2 linked regions of the Homo sapiens genome follow. The protein of the gene in region 2 purifies or fractionates together with the protein of the main gene of each other region. This does not show direct contact. Each region holds a gene or a part of one and is shown on either strand. Other genes may lie near its edges.

Evidence for each region. Proteins that work in one complex are often made in the same cells at the same time.
Region 1: the proteins of ZC3H3 (region 2) and PPAN-P2RY11 purify together in Homo sapiens (affinity purification with mass spectrometry, with the first as the bait; 3 studies listed by BioGRID). This does not show direct contact.

What each region holds. Positions count from the first base shown.
Region 1 is NC_000019.10:10,101,953-10,109,361, reverse strand, and holds the start of PPAN-P2RY11 (PPAN-P2RY11 protein), read right to left. Parts: upstream 3,001-7,409; 5' UTR 2,968-3,000; coding exon 2,950-2,967; exon of another isoform or gene 2,862-2,949; coding exon 2,691-2,861; intron 1,858-2,690; coding exon 1,756-1,857; intron 1,712-1,755; exon of another isoform or gene 1,627-1,711; intron 1,559-1,626; coding exon 1,508-1,558; intron 1,399-1,507; coding exon 1,228-1,398; intron 1-1,227. Other genes in the region: PPAN (suppressor of SWI4 1 homolog), read right to left, coding at 1,228-1,398, 1,508-1,558, 1,756-1,857, 2,691-2,861, 2,950-2,967; ANGPTL6 (angiopoietin-related protein 6), read left to right, coding at 6,270-6,355, 6,706-6,810. UniProt on the Homo sapiens protein: May have a role in cell growth.
Region 2 is NC_000008.11:143,461,394-143,468,479, forward strand, and holds part of ZC3H3 (zinc finger CCCH domain-containing protein 3), read right to left. Parts: coding exon 6,989-7,086; intron 6,886-6,988; coding exon 6,816-6,885; intron 4,456-6,815; coding exon 4,324-4,455; intron 1-4,323. UniProt on the Homo sapiens protein: Required for the export of polyadenylated mRNAs from the nucleus. Enhances ACVR1B-induced SMAD-dependent transcription. Binds to single-stranded DNA but not to double-stranded DNA in vitro. Involved in RNA cleavage.

The sequences.
Region 1 (7,409 bases), on a different chromosome or scaffold from region 2:
TGTAGTCTCAGCTACTCGGGAAGCGGAGGCTGCAGGATTGCTTGTGCCCAGGAGTTCAAGACCAACGTACGGAGACCCCGTCTCTTAAAAAAAAAGTAAAGAAGGCCGGGCACGGTGGCTCACGCCTGTAATCCCAGCACTTTGGGAGGCCGAGGCGGGCAGCTCACGAGGTCAGATCAAGACCACCCTGGCTAACACGGTGAAATCCTGTCTCTACTAAAAATACAAAAAATTAGCCGGGGTGTGGTGGCGGGCACCTGTAGTCCCAGCTACTCGGGAGGCTGAGGCAGGAGAATGGCGTGAACCTGGGAGGCGGAGCTTGCAATGAGATGAGATTGTGCCACCGCACTCCAGCCTGGGAGACAGAGCAAGACTCCGTCTCAAAAAAAAAAAAAAAAGGTAAACAAGAAATTCTGGTCCCAGAGCCGTATTAGCCTCCCTGATGACTGATATCTTATATATAATTTATAAGTCCCATCTGAGAGTCACTAGTGACAAGGATTAGGAGCTAGGACTCAGGAGCCAGATGAAATTAAAAATCCAGTCCTGCCCCCTGGAATCTAAACTTAGCATCTCTGCCAGCCTCAGATTTGCTTTTTTTTTTTTTTTTGAGACAGTGTCTCGCTTTGTCACCCAGGATGGAGTAGAGTGGCGTGAACACAACTCACTGCAGCCTTGACCTCCTGGGCTCAGGTGATCCTCCCACCTCAGCCTCCCCAGTAGCTGGTACTACAGGCATGCACCGCCACACCGGGCTTTTTAAAAATCTACTTTTTGTAGACATGGGGTCTCGCTATGTTGCACAGGCTGATCTCAAAGTCTTGGCTTCAAGCGATCCTCCCACCTCGCCCTCCCAAAGTACTGGGATTACAGGCCGAAGCCATAGCACTGGGCCCGCAGCTTCCCTCTGTAAAACAGGGCCCTAAGAAGAGATGCTACGATCCTGCTCAGCCCAGCACTCAACACACGTGGGAAACAGAGCTCCATCAGTATTTCTTTCCACCGGCTGGAAAAGGTGCAGCTCACGGGGTGTGGACCGCTGGGGGAATCTCTGGACACTTTTGCCCAGCATCATCAGACACAGGAGTGGGATTTGACCTCAGGACTCAGCAGACCCAGGAGCTCCCAGTCTCAGCGCTGGGAGGAGTGAGCAATCCATCTGAGGGCCTGTGGCACCTCTATCCGCTGCACCCCCCCATACCTGCCACCTCGCCAGGCCAGACCCACCTTGTGCACGTTGATGGAGGGGAACAGGTTCTGGAACATGGTGGCCATGAGCTTCACATGCATACCATGGGGGCCAAAGCTGTTGAGTACCAGGAGGGGTGGGTGGGCAAACTGCTGCTCGTGCATGCGGTGCCGGCGCAGTGAGGAGACCACATCACGCACCAGCGAGTACTGTAGGACAGGAGAGAGGAGGGGGTGACCACCAACCACACATGGCTGCGGACAACCCCAAGTCCAGCTCCCACCCCACATGGCTTTGTACCACCTCCACCCCTCTCACCTTCTTGACCTGGAAGGTCAAGGTGGGGCCTCCTGGGAGGCGCATCAGCTTCTGCAGGAGAAGAAAAGATCAGTGACTCTGGAGGGGTCTAGCAGAGGTGCCCGGAGTAGGCACCTTTGCCCCATCTCTTCTTCAGAGCGTTTACTTTGAAGCCAGAAATCACAGCAGCTCAGAGGCATATGTGTTCATCATGAGAGATAGGGGAAGGGGGGGTCTGGGGGAGATGAAGGGTGAGGGCGTCTACTCACAAAGTAGACATTGGTCTCTGTTTTGCTCAGGATCAGAAAGTGTGTGACCCCGAGGGGCCCAGCCACTGCCACGCAGTCCTTCAGCGAGTTCTTCTTACGAACCTGGAAATGACAAAAAGAAAAAAAGAAAACATAGCTTATCCCTTGTTGTGACAACTATAAGCTGACGGTGCAGATCCTGTTATGGTCTGTCTTGCATCTGACCCTTTCAACAAGCCCAGAGGAGCAAAAGGATCTTAGCCTTTAGAGTCAGTCGGACGCAGATTTGAGTTCTAACTCTGTCTCTTGCTCACAGCGCATCTTCCCATTGACAAATGAGCGAACTCAGGCCCAGAGAGGTTAAGTAACTTGCATCAGATACTGGGGAGAAGTCAGTTTCCAACCCTGCTTTGCTGCCTCCAGATTCTAGTCTTTTTTTTTCTAACACGGTCTCCTCCGGTCGCCCAGACTGGAGTGAAGTGGCACGATCCCGATTCACTACAGCCTTAATTTCCTGGGCTCAAGGAATCCTCCCACCTCAGCCTCCCGAGTAGCCGGGACTACAGGCACGCAACACCATATCCGACTAATTTTTCTATTTTTTGTAAAGACGGGGTTTCACCATGCTGCTCAGGCTGGTCTCGAATTCCTGGGCTCAAGTGATCCTCCCGCATCAGCATCCCCAAATGCTGGGAATACAGGCATGAGCCACCACGCCCGGCTCCAGATTCCAGTCTTAACTGTCAGGCTTAGGCGACTATCTATCTCCCAAGCTGCGCGCCCTCACTCCAGCCCAGCAAAAGCCCTGAAAGGCAGAAATGATGCTCCCCATGAGGGTCTTTTTTTCCAGCTGGGGAGACTTAAGTCCTCCCACAGTTTTACAGCGGGAGCCATTACTGCAGCTACGAAGACTAGGCCGAGGGTGGGTGGAGGCGGGCTGGGGGTGGGGTACAAACCTGCAGACGGCTGGCAGTGAGCGGCTCCATGACCCGCCGCACGTCCAGGCTGAGCTGCCGGATGTTGCGACCCGTGCAGCCTCGCGTGAACACGAACGAGTGCGGGTTCGCGGCATAGGCCTCGAGGTTGCGGAGCTGCGCCTGGGCGCGGGCGCGCTTCTGGTGCCGGGACTGCGGCGACGAGAGACAAAGGGTCAGCGCCGCGACCTCGGCCGGGACCCCACCTGCGCCACCTGCCTCCCAAGCTGCCGGGCCTTACCCTCCCTGACTGTCCCATGCTGCTGTGTCCTCCACGAGGCCTCCTGCGTCCGCCGCTTCCGGCGCTGCGCAGCTCACTTCCGGCGCCTGAGAGCCGGCACGGCGTGGGACGACATCAGGCGGGCCTGCGCACTAGGTGGCCTCTGGGAGCGGGGAGGGGCAATCAGATGGAGCGGTTGCTATGGAGACACGGGTGCCTGTTTCTAGGGAGACCGGGGCGGGGCTACGCGGCTCCGGGCTGCAGAGAAACGAATCCGCCGGTTCGAATCCCGCTTCGGCCCATTTCCTCCAGCTGGGCTAAAACCACTTTCTGCATTCCGAGGCTCCTAAAATATCCCAAAGTAAGGCTGATAATGTCCCCCGGGCCCACGAATTAGGAGCGACCATGTATGCACAATGTTGGGCGCTCTGGCGCCAAGTACTTGGGGAGAAGCCACCGGAGGGAATGACTGTGGCAATCATTCACTTTAGTCTCGCAACTCCTCTGGGCCAGCTGTCCTCCCCGGGTACCCCTGTCTGCAGACAGGCTGAGGGATGGAAACTCCACATCACCTTCTGGAAACTCAGGGCAAGGCGGGCGTTTCGTGAATAACTCGCCCCCTCCTTCTTTCCGCTCAAAGCCTCAGTCTTGGCCTCAGGCCTCTGGCTTCTTCCCCAAAACCTTGCAGTGGGGGAAAGGGACACCCCCTCACTGGGCTGAACATTACTCTCTCCTCCCCCATCGGCCTCCTCTCCCTCCTTGCTCTCTCTGGCACCCCAATTCTTCCTCCTCTCCCCCAGATGTGTCTCCCCTCCCCCTCGTCTTCCCCCTGTCTCTTTCTCCCTCTTGTAACTTTGTCTCTGTCATCAGTTGTCTCTTTCATCATTTATAACTGAAGATGGAAACTAAAGAAGTTTCCTTTCTCTGTGTCTGGCCCCATCCCTGTTTCTTTCTTCTCATCTGCCTCCCTGTGGTCTCTCCCCATCTTCCCATCTCTCTCTGTCTCTCCCCATCTCCCCGTCTCTCCCTTTCTCTGCCATCTCCCTATGTCTCTCCCATCTCCCTATGCCTCTCCCATCTCCATCTGTCTGACTCTCTGTATTCTTCAGCCCCTCTCTGTGACTTATGAAGTTCCCTCCCTCTCTACTGCCAATGGGGAAGCCAGAGGGGGCTGAGGGTGGGGGGCCGAGGGGCCCAGTGTGGGGGCCCCAACCCAGGCCCAGAGCCCAGCCTGGCAGCCTCTCTCAGATCTGGGACGACCATTTCCTTTTTCAACCCTGGAGTCCACTCGAGTTACTCGGGAGCTCAGGATGGTGCAGACCAGGGGAAGGAGGTGACTCTCCCGGCGTGTGGCTGGTCGTCGGTGGGGCCTTTGGACAGGTCTCAGACCCTGGGCCTGGGCTCTGTGGGGCTCTATGTGAGTTTCTTTGTACCCCTGGGAAATGACTGCATGGTTACTTCCCCCAGTTCCGTCCTCGTGTGATTTGACTTGTGTGAAAATGTGACCGAGTGTGTGGGAGACAGACGGTGACCTCTGTGGTGCGGTGGATAGGTTTCCGGGTGTCAACTGTGTGTACCTGTTTTGTATCTGTGCACTACTGTGTGATCACAAGAACCAGGATGTGGACAAGCCTGACACACAGATAAAGACCCACTCAGCCCACCCCATTTCCCTTTAAGTTGTGATGTGTGTGTGACCATATTTGGAACATACAGTTGTTGCCTGAAACTGTTATGTTTCCAGCTGTGTCTTTTTAAAAATTTTTTTTAATCAATGAGATATCCTTTATTTATGAAAGCATAGTTCCAATGCAGAAGTCAAGCTTTATGGTTATATATTAGGATAGGTTCAGATCCAATATGACAATGTTTAGCACTAACTTTAACATGTTAAAGCTCTGATTCCTGAATGTTTTTCTCACTTAATATATTCTCTCCAATGACAAGCTGGTGTGCTTGGCTTCTTATGCTGAAAAATATATGCCTGAATTCTATAACAAGCTATTAACAAAATCATGAATAGTTAATTAAATAAGTGCCAACACTACATGGAACTTACTGGCCACCAACTCAGAACCATAAAACTACACACACACACACACACACACACACACACCACACACACAAACAAAACAAAAAAAACACCAAAGAAAGATAGCTATCACTGTACATATGAATACTGTCCAGGATATCAGATCAATTATCAAATCCAAGGTCTCTGGTGTTTTGTCTCACAGTGTTGAATATATGAATGCTTCTCTATTATACTGACTTGTATTATTTTCAACAAATAATTATGTGGACTCAAAATCTTACATTTTTATTTCTTTTCTTTTTTTTTTTTTTTTTTTTGAGACAGAGTCTTACTCTGTCGCCCAGGCTGGAGTGCAGTGGCTCACTGCAACCTCCGCCCCCCGGGTTCAAGCGATTCTCCTGCCTCAGCCTCCTGAGTAGCTGGGATTACAGGCATGGGCCACCACACCCGGCAAATTTTTGTATTTTTAGTAGAGACGGGGTTTCACCATCTTGGCCAGGCTGGTCTCGAATTGCTGACCTCGTGATCTGCCCACCTTGGCCTCCCAAAGTGCTGGGATTACAGGCGTGAGCCACCGCGCCCAGCCTTACATTTTTATTTCTAATTATAAAATCCAGATTAATCCAAAAAACATAAATCACATGTAACTGAGGTAGGGTTTTCACTTTAAGAATATATTGTTTCTATCACAATTTAAAAATTTACAGCTGTGTCTTTTATATTTATTTTTTATTTTAATTAATTAATTCCTCACTTTATTATTATTTATTTATTATTTATTTATTTATTTATTTATTTATTTTTGAGATGGAATTTCAGTCTTGTCGCCCAGGCTGGAGTGCATGCGGTTGCTCGATCTCGGCTTACTGCAACCTCCACCTCCTGGCTTCAAGCAATTCTCCTGCCTCAGCCTCCCGCGTAGCTGGGATTACTGGCGCATGCCACCATGCCCAGCTAATTTTTGTATTGTTAGTAGAGACGGGGTTTTAGCATGTTGGCAAGGATGGTTTCGAACTCCTGACCTCAGGTAATCCACCTGCCCCGGCCTCCCAAAGTGCTGGCTTTCAGGCATGAGCCACTGCACCCAGACTTTCGCTGGGTGTTAATGTGTGCGTGCGTGCAAATGTGTGTGTGTGTGTTTGTGTCCACTCTGTTATGTGCCCATATGTGTGTGACAGCTGTGGTGTACATGTGTGAGTTTCTGAGTCAAGCTACCTTGGCTGGCTCCCATCCTGGTCTCTTTTTGGCTGTGTGACCGCAGGCAAGTTGCTTACCCTCTCTGAGCCTCAGTTTTCCCTGCTGTAAAATGAGGGTACATACAGAATCCAGCTCAGGTTGTAAGGATCAAATACGTAAAAGGTGTGGAGAGTTTAGAGCCAAGCCCTACACACGGTAAGTCCCCAGTGATGTTCCTCTTTCTATGTGTGGTGTGTGCGTGTCTGGGGCTGGGATCACGCCTGGCTGCCCCAGGGCCTGCAGCCTCCCACGCTCTGGGCTCTGCAGTGGAGGGTGTGGGGGAAAGGGAGGGATGTCCAGGACACTGACCTGTGTTATCAGGCTCTGGTGGCCTGGGCAGGGGGGTCTGGCAATTCTGTCTCATTTCTCATTCGGGAAATGCTAAATATTTATAGTTTGGGCTCCTGGGCCCAGCATCCCAGCTCCACTCCCAGGCTCTGGGGGCTGGGGAGTGGTTACCAAGCCTCCTCTCTCCTTCTGTCCCACTGCCCTCTCCCCGTCTCTAGCTCAGAGGCCCCACTGGACCCTCGGCTCTTCCTTGGACTTCTTGTGTGTTCTGTGAGCTTCGCTGGATTCAGGGTCTTGGGCATCAGAGGTGAGAGGGTGGGAAGGTAGGTGGAGGTTGATTCTCACTGTGGGGAAACTCCGACCACAGCTTGGCTTGGGGGCCCCCAGGCCACCCCGCCACCCCAGGCTGAGAGTGTAAAAGGCAGCGGGTGTTATACACACGTCCCAGTTCTGGGGGGTTGCTCAATCTCTGTTGTGGGGGGTGGGGCATGTCAGTGATCGGGGACAAAGAGAGGACCCTACCCCCGGATCCTTGTGAGCCCCTGCTTGGTGTCTGAGTCCAGAAGTAAATGTGGCCATCTCCAGCCCAGAACCCTCCATGGCTCCTGCCTGACTCAGAGTAAAACCCAAGTCCTCCTCCGGGCCCACAGGACCCTTCACACTTTGCCCTGACACTTCTTACCTCCTCCTGCTTCCCCCTTCTCTCTTCCGGCCTCATAGACATTTCTGCCATTTCTTTTTTTTTTTTTTTTTTTTTTTGAGACAGAGTCTCGCTCTGTCACCCAGGCTGGAGTGCAGTGGCGCGATCTCAGCTCACTGCAAGCTCCGCCTTCCGGGTTCACGCCATTCTCCTGCCTCAGTCTCTGGAGTGGCTGGGGCTACAGGCGCTCGCCACCATGCCCGGCTAATTTTTTTTTTTTTT
Region 2 (7,086 bases):
CTGCCGGCAGGAGTGTCAAACAGTGAAGCCGTTTTAGAAAACAGGAGGCTGTTAACCTAGAGTGACCCTGTAGCCCTGCAGTGACCCTATGGCCCTGCAATTCCACTCCTAGGTGTCTACCCAAGAGAAGCAAAAGCATCGGCCACACAAAGGCTGGAGCGCGGACATTCGAGGCAGTATTATTCACGACAGCCCCCAACTGGCAACCACCCGAACGGACAAAGAAAGTGTGGAGAGCCTCTGCAGCGGCTTGACTCTGTAATAAAAACGGGTGCAGCGCTGAGGTGCTGCAGGACAGACCTCCAAACATGATGCAAAATCAAAGATGCCAAACAACCATGTACTGTATGATTCCAGCAACACGAAAGGCCCACAGAAGAAACTTACCGAGACAGAAGTGGATGAGTGTTAGGGGCCGGGACTGATGATGAAAAGAGTGAGGGAATTCTGGGGGGCGATGAAAACAACTGAAAGCTGCGCTGTGGTGCAGCTGTACCACTCTAAGTTTACTCAAACCCACAGAACCATACACCTAGAGCAGAGGAATTGTGTGGGAGGGAAACTGTACTTCAGTTAAGCTGCTTTTTTTTTTTTTTTAAAGCTGACACCACAGATCAAAGGGTTAGATCACCGTTGAGGGAAAGCACCCACGACATGAAGAAAAACTAAGTGAGGCCCCACCTCACACAACACGCAAATGAAGAACAGCAAACGGCAGCCGACTTGTAGGGAGGCCTCCCTGTGCCAGGGCCACCCAGGACACTGCCAGGCCCACTGTGGCCCCCTGAAGAGTCGCCACGACCCTCTGAGATAGGCAGTGCCGTTATCCCGACTGTATATAAAAGGAGACTGAGGCCAGAGGAGGAAGTAACCGTGCAGGGACAAGCGACACCCACAGCTGCCTCTTGAGCCAGCATCAGGCAATGCAGGAGGCACTCTGTGACCATGGGTGGAGACTGGTCCTAAACAAGACCCCGAGCACAAATCACAGGGCAAAGGATGTCAGGACCTTGCCTCATAAAGGACGAAGGATTCGGCCTAACAAAGGGCAGCACTGGCGAAAGCAAGGCACCAACAGAGAAGCGCTGTATGTGAACAAAACCAAGACAGGCGCTGTCCAGAGGACACAGGAGCCCTTGCAAGCCTGGAGGATGAAGGCAGGGTGTGCGTGAGGGGAATCCCAGGTGACTCAGGTCTCAGCTCGCACTTGGGGAGCTGAAACCCAAGGCTCAGCCAGGGCCTTCCCTCTCCCGACAGCTCCCTGCAGACAGGCACCAACCACACACAGGGTGTGGGGAAAACGGCAGCGCGGAGGCTCACGGAGCAGGCACTGCAGATGCAGGAGGGCCAAGGTGTGCAGGAGCTCTCAATGCAGAGGTGGGGATGGAGTCACTGTCACCCCTGCACACGTGCACACGATGCTCCCCAGCCCTGTGCACTGGGGGCGCTGGCAGCAGCCAACACCCTAGCTGCAACAAGCACACGCAGCGCCCAGACCCTGAGTCCTAAACACACCCAGAAGGAACCAGGGCGCCCTGCAGGAGCAGCTGTCCCACCTAGAGCCACCAGGAGCAGCGCCCAGACCCTGAGTCTCTTTTTTTTTTTTTGAGACAGAGTCTCACTCTTGTCACGTAGGCTGGAGTGCAGTGGCGCAATCTCAGCTCACCACAACCTCCACCTCCCGGGTTCCAGCAATTCTCCTGCCTCAGCCTCCCGAGTAGCTGGGATTACAGGCATTTGCCGCCACAACCGGCTAACTTTTCGTATTTTTAGTAGAGATGGGGTTTCACCATGTTGGCCAAGCTGGTTTTGAACTCCTGACCTCAGGTGATCCACCTGCCTCGGCCTCCCAAAGTGTTGGGATTACAGGTGTGAGCCACCGCGCCCGGCCCAGACCCTGAGTCTTAAACACACCCATAAGGAGCCAGGAGCGGCTGTCCCAGAGCCGCCGGGTGCTGGGAGCATCTGGGTGCCAGAAAGCAAGCAAGGGTGCAGAAACTGTCAGGCACATCATAAGGGCAGGAGCCCTGGCAGGGCAGCATATTAAAAGGGGACGGCAATGGACACAGCCGGACACACCCGTGGACAAACAGGCGAGCGGTGAGCACGGAGGAGGGAAAACTCTTCCGTTCAAGGACGCCGGCCGCGGATCAGAATTTGACAGCAGACAGACACAGCTGGCTATTAAGACTAAGGGGAGAAGGTGGAGTTTTCTAGTCTCAGAGTCTCCCCCCAGCAAGACGTATCAGCCGGGGAGATCCCTTTGACAAGGATGGAGCGAGCGCCTGAGGCAAGGGAGGAAAACAGCGCTGCACCAGGACAGGGACGCCTACTGGGGAGGACTCTGCGTCTCCGGGTCTGGGCAGGACGTGGCAGACCCCGCAGGTGTGTACAAACAGGCAGTCTGAAGTCATCCCCGTCCTGATATCTAGGAGGGCAGGCGGCATCTGGCAGAGGTTGACCCCTGAGCCACAGCCGTGGCCCCCCAAAAGGGGAAGGAGCGGAGATTTACTCCCAGCCTAAATTATTCACAAGGAAAGGGAATGTGGCTCTTTAACAAGCCATCGCTTTATGAAGCAAGGTTAACAATTTCACTTGATTCAGTGGAATATTATAAACTCTCTGGGGCCCATTTGAGGACTTCTACTTCAGGCGCAAGGTGACGATTCAGCACTTTTCACATTATTTAGAGAATAAAATTAACCCTCGCAGGCCCGGGCTGCCGCCTGTCCCCGCTGGATCTGGCCGGCTCAGCGCTTTCCCATATATAATTACAAGCTGCTATCCATCATGCGGGCGCCGCGGCGCGGACACACGGAAAGGCAGCAGTAAGCACTTCCACTAATAGAAGCAGGACCTAAATATCACTTTGATATTTTCATTTAAATCGAAACATTTTACAATAATCAGCCATGGCCTCCATGGGGATCCTGCCACTGCCCCCACAGGGTCTGGGGCTGCCCCAGCCAGGCCCTACCTCCCCGGAGGGGATTGCCTGCCAGGTTTCAGGTTGGGGAGCCCGGCCTGGCCAACCCTTGGCCCGGCAGCAGGGGCTGCAGGCTGACTCCTCCTGGGAAGTGGGTGTGAGGACTGAGGATGAGGGAGAGGATGCTTGGGAAGGGCCCGGCCCACCACAGAACGCTGTGCACAGGAAGGAGTGCGTGGCCCAGCTTCTACAGGACCCCACAGGTGAACCCAGCAAGGGAGGGGCAGGAGAGCCGCCAGAGCTTCGGGCCCGGTGTCCTTGCGGGTGGGCTGAGAAAGGGTTCCTGGGGTGCCTGGTGTTCTCGGCTTCACGGGGGCTGCAGACCCTGAGGCAGCGCCAACACAAGTGTGAGGTCCAGGTGGCAGTGAGCCGTGCTGCAGGCCCCGGGGCTCCCTCCCAAGATGCCAGGGACAAGGAGCATCTCCAGGTCCCCCAGCTCTGGCCCCTCCCCAGCCTGAGCCAGGAGGCCCCCAGCCTCAGCCACAAGCCTTAGGCCAGGTGCAGGAGCCCCCAGGGCGGGGAGAGAAACAGGCGTGAGAGGCTGGGGTAGAGGGGGCTTGTACCCGGGACCAGGCCCACTGGAGATGCTGAGGCCACGCTGCTTGTGGCGGGGAGTCCTGCTGAAGCCCAGGAGGGCAGGTGAGGCAGAGGGGAGGAGCTGGCTGCACTGCCGGGAACTTCCCAGACAGGTGAGCCTGTGAGTGCCTCTGCAACACAGGAGTCAGTCATGCCCCTAGGAAGAGGGGAGCCGCAGCCATCAGCTACAGCCCAGGTCCCCAATTCTCCACCCAGCAGTGGTGCCCCGCAATGAGCTCCAGCGCCAGCTCACTCCACCCTTGCCAGCCACGGCTCAGGCGGCCCCCTTGGCTCTGCCTGGCCCACCCCTCTGCCCCAGGCTGGGTGGGAGTGTCCCGTCCACCCCCTGCCTTCCTGGGGAGGCTGCTGGCCCCACATCCTGCAGCCCTGCGGGCTCCCTGGCCTCCAATATCCCCTTCACTGCACTGCCGCCCCCAGCAACATCCCAGGAGCTGCTCCGGCCCAGTCACCACACCCCTACCATGGGGGGCCAGCTCCTGGGGCTACCAGTGCTGCACCTGGAAGTCTAGGTCCTCTGCGCCTCACCTTCCCATGGTTCAAACCCCGCCCTGTGTTGGTGCTGTGCAACCCCGGGAAAGTTGCTGGACCTCTCTGAGTCACCTGTGAGGTGGACGTGATGGCACTGACCACCTCAGGGCTGCAGATGGGTCATCCAGCCACCACGGCAGGTACCCAGGAGTGAGCAGAGGACCAACAAGCCACAGGAACCCCGCCCACTCGGGCCCCCACAGACCACTCACCTTTGCACCCAGGGGGCAGTAGCCTTTGAGGAAGTCGCTGCAGACCTCGGCCTTGCGGGACACGTACACGTGGCTATAGGGACAGTTGCTGTTGCTGCAGATGCCCTTCAGGAAGTAGGAGCACACCGGCATCTGCAGGGAGGGCCGGCAGTGAGGGCCAGCAGGCAGCCACCCTCCAGGGCCCAGAGACGGTGGCTGGGGACCCTCCTACGGCCCCGCCCGAGAGAGAAATGGACACGCGGCACCAGCAGGCAGGAAGGGCAGCCACCACGACCTGCGGGGCAGGGAAGCTGCTGCTCAGAAGTGGGCCCCAGCCTCCCCAGGTGAGCCACACCCCTGCCGTGCTCTGTCCAGAGGAGGCATGGAGCAGCCCTGTAGCCCTGTGGCTCAGCCTCAGGGGCGCCCTCCTCTGAGTCCCTCACCTGTTCTGAGCCTGCCCACCGTCCAGGGCAAGATGGCAGCCAGGGCTCCCAACCACTAGCCTGTGGCCAGGGCTGCCCTTGGAGCCTCTCAGGCCATGGGGACCAGTGTCTAGGTGGGAGGACGAGCCACGGGCCAGCAGCCAACAGAGGGCTCTCCCTCTCCAGGCACCTGACCCGTGGGCCACAGGCAGTGTCCCTGGGCTCTAGGTGGGCAGGAGCCACCTGGAAGCAGGGCTGGTGTGGCACTGGCTGCAGGCCAGCACCGTGGAGGCCAAGGCTGTCAGCAGGAAGGGTCCAGCAGCGTCTTCCTCCCCAGCACAGGGCCGCTGGCCACAGTCAGTGCTTGTTATCACCACTGGGCTGGGAGAGGGAAAAAATGTAACTTTCCTCCCATTTGGGGGAACCTCAGGCCTAAGGAGCAATGGCTGGGCTAGGGCCACCCAGGGAGGGAAGCAGGGGGTCTCTTGCCATCTCCAGGAGACATCTCCCTGCCCCTCATGGGCCACCACGGGCTCTTCCTGGGCTGCCTGGGTGTCCAGAACAAGGATGTCACCGTCCAGCCTCAGCATGGAGCCCCCACAGAGCCCCTGCCAGCACCCCAGGGTCTCCAGTCTTGCCCCAGGCTATTCCCGCTCCCCTCCCAGGGCCTTCCTCCCTCCTGGGTCAGACCACCCTCCCTGCTCCCACTACCCTTGTCCCCCTCCCCTTCCCAGCCTGCTCAGAGCTGCTGGGGCCTGAGGAGCCCTGGGGGATCTGGGCAGACCCAGAGGCTTTAAAAAGTCACTTTTCTGGGGCAAGGTTGGGGATGGGAAAGGAACTTGTCTAAGGCCAAGGAGGGAAGAAGGGGTCCAGAGAGCCAGCGGCCAGGGCTGAGAGGGAGGGAGGGAGAAGGCAAAGAAACAAAGGGTGATTTAACGAGCGGGAGTTTATTTCTAATTGTCTTTTAACTGCAGCCGCAGAGGGGAGAGGGGCTGGGGGCCGTTTGGGGCTGGCGGTGGTGGGCTGTAGACAATTCCCTTAATGTGGTTTTTGATATAGAGCCCAAATTAGCTCTAATAAAAAGGGATGATAAAGCCAACTCTACAGCAAACGGAGCTCCTCTTGGCTGTCAGAGCGGGGCTGTTATCAAGAGGAAACTGCATTCTCATTTCAATTAACCTTGTTTGCACCCCGCCACGTCCACACAAATAACAATAACATTAATTCAGGGCACTGGTGCGGGGCGTCCACATTAGACAGCTTGGAATGTGCTCTGGCTTTGGAGCTGGGAGCTAATGAACCCGAAACTCGATGTGAATTTCCAAATTGCTCACAACAGAGTTCCGAAGCTCTATTAGGGAGAAAAATGCTGATTCTTTTCAAGTTCCTCAAGGGGAAAAGCTGTTGCGGCAGCAGCACCCCTGCCCAACACCGCCTCCCTCACCCAAGGCAGCCCTCACTCCACTCGCATGCTGTGGTCACACCGTGGCTGAGTCCGGGGCACAGGAGCTACACATGTCCCCCCCAGCCCCAGGGCTCTCTTGCTGCTTCCCAGCAGGGGACCCACCTTGGCTCAAAGCAAGTCTGTTGGGTTTCAGGCCGCGGGGACAACCACATGAGCCAGGAGTCCAGCTGTTCTCCCTCCAGCCCCTCCCTCCCGCCCTCTGCCCAGGCAGCCTCTCCACCCAGCCCCCTCACATACAGCTTCCCCCCTCCTGCCAACCCCAGTCTGAAGAGGCCCTGAGGCCTCAGCCCTGGGTCCACAGGGGCACCTGTGGGACCACCTTCCCCTAGGCATGTGTAAGGGGGGCCTGGGGATCTGGTGAGGCCTGGTGCTGCCAGGAGAAGGGAAAAGAGACCCCTGTGCGTGGTGAGCAGAGACCCTATCAGCGCTGCTTTCCGGGGAAGAGGAAGCCCAGCTGCAAAGCCTGCAATGGGGTAGAGACGGTACAGCAGACTCTAAGGACGCCAGGGCAGGGATCTGCATGTCCCAAACCCAGAGAAAGCTGTGGGCACCATCTGCCCGGAGGCCAGGTGGCTGAGGCCCCGGAGAAAGGTGCACGGGAGCAGGGCCACCAGCGCCGCACTCACCTTCTCCTTGGACACATGGTGGGAGAAGGGGCAGGTCCCATCCGTTTTCTTGCAGGTGCCCCGGACAAACCTGCAGCACCAGGAGAAACGGGTATGAGGAAGGGCCGGCAGGGACCAAGGGCAGGGCCCTGCACAGAACCTCCCCCAGGCCCACAGCGAGGGCAGGAGGGCACCTGGTGCACACGGCCACCTTCTCGGGATCGTGGATGTAGGGGCAGCGCTCGCCACGGTTGCACCTGCCGAAGCGGTTGTAGTACATGCAGTACTCCTT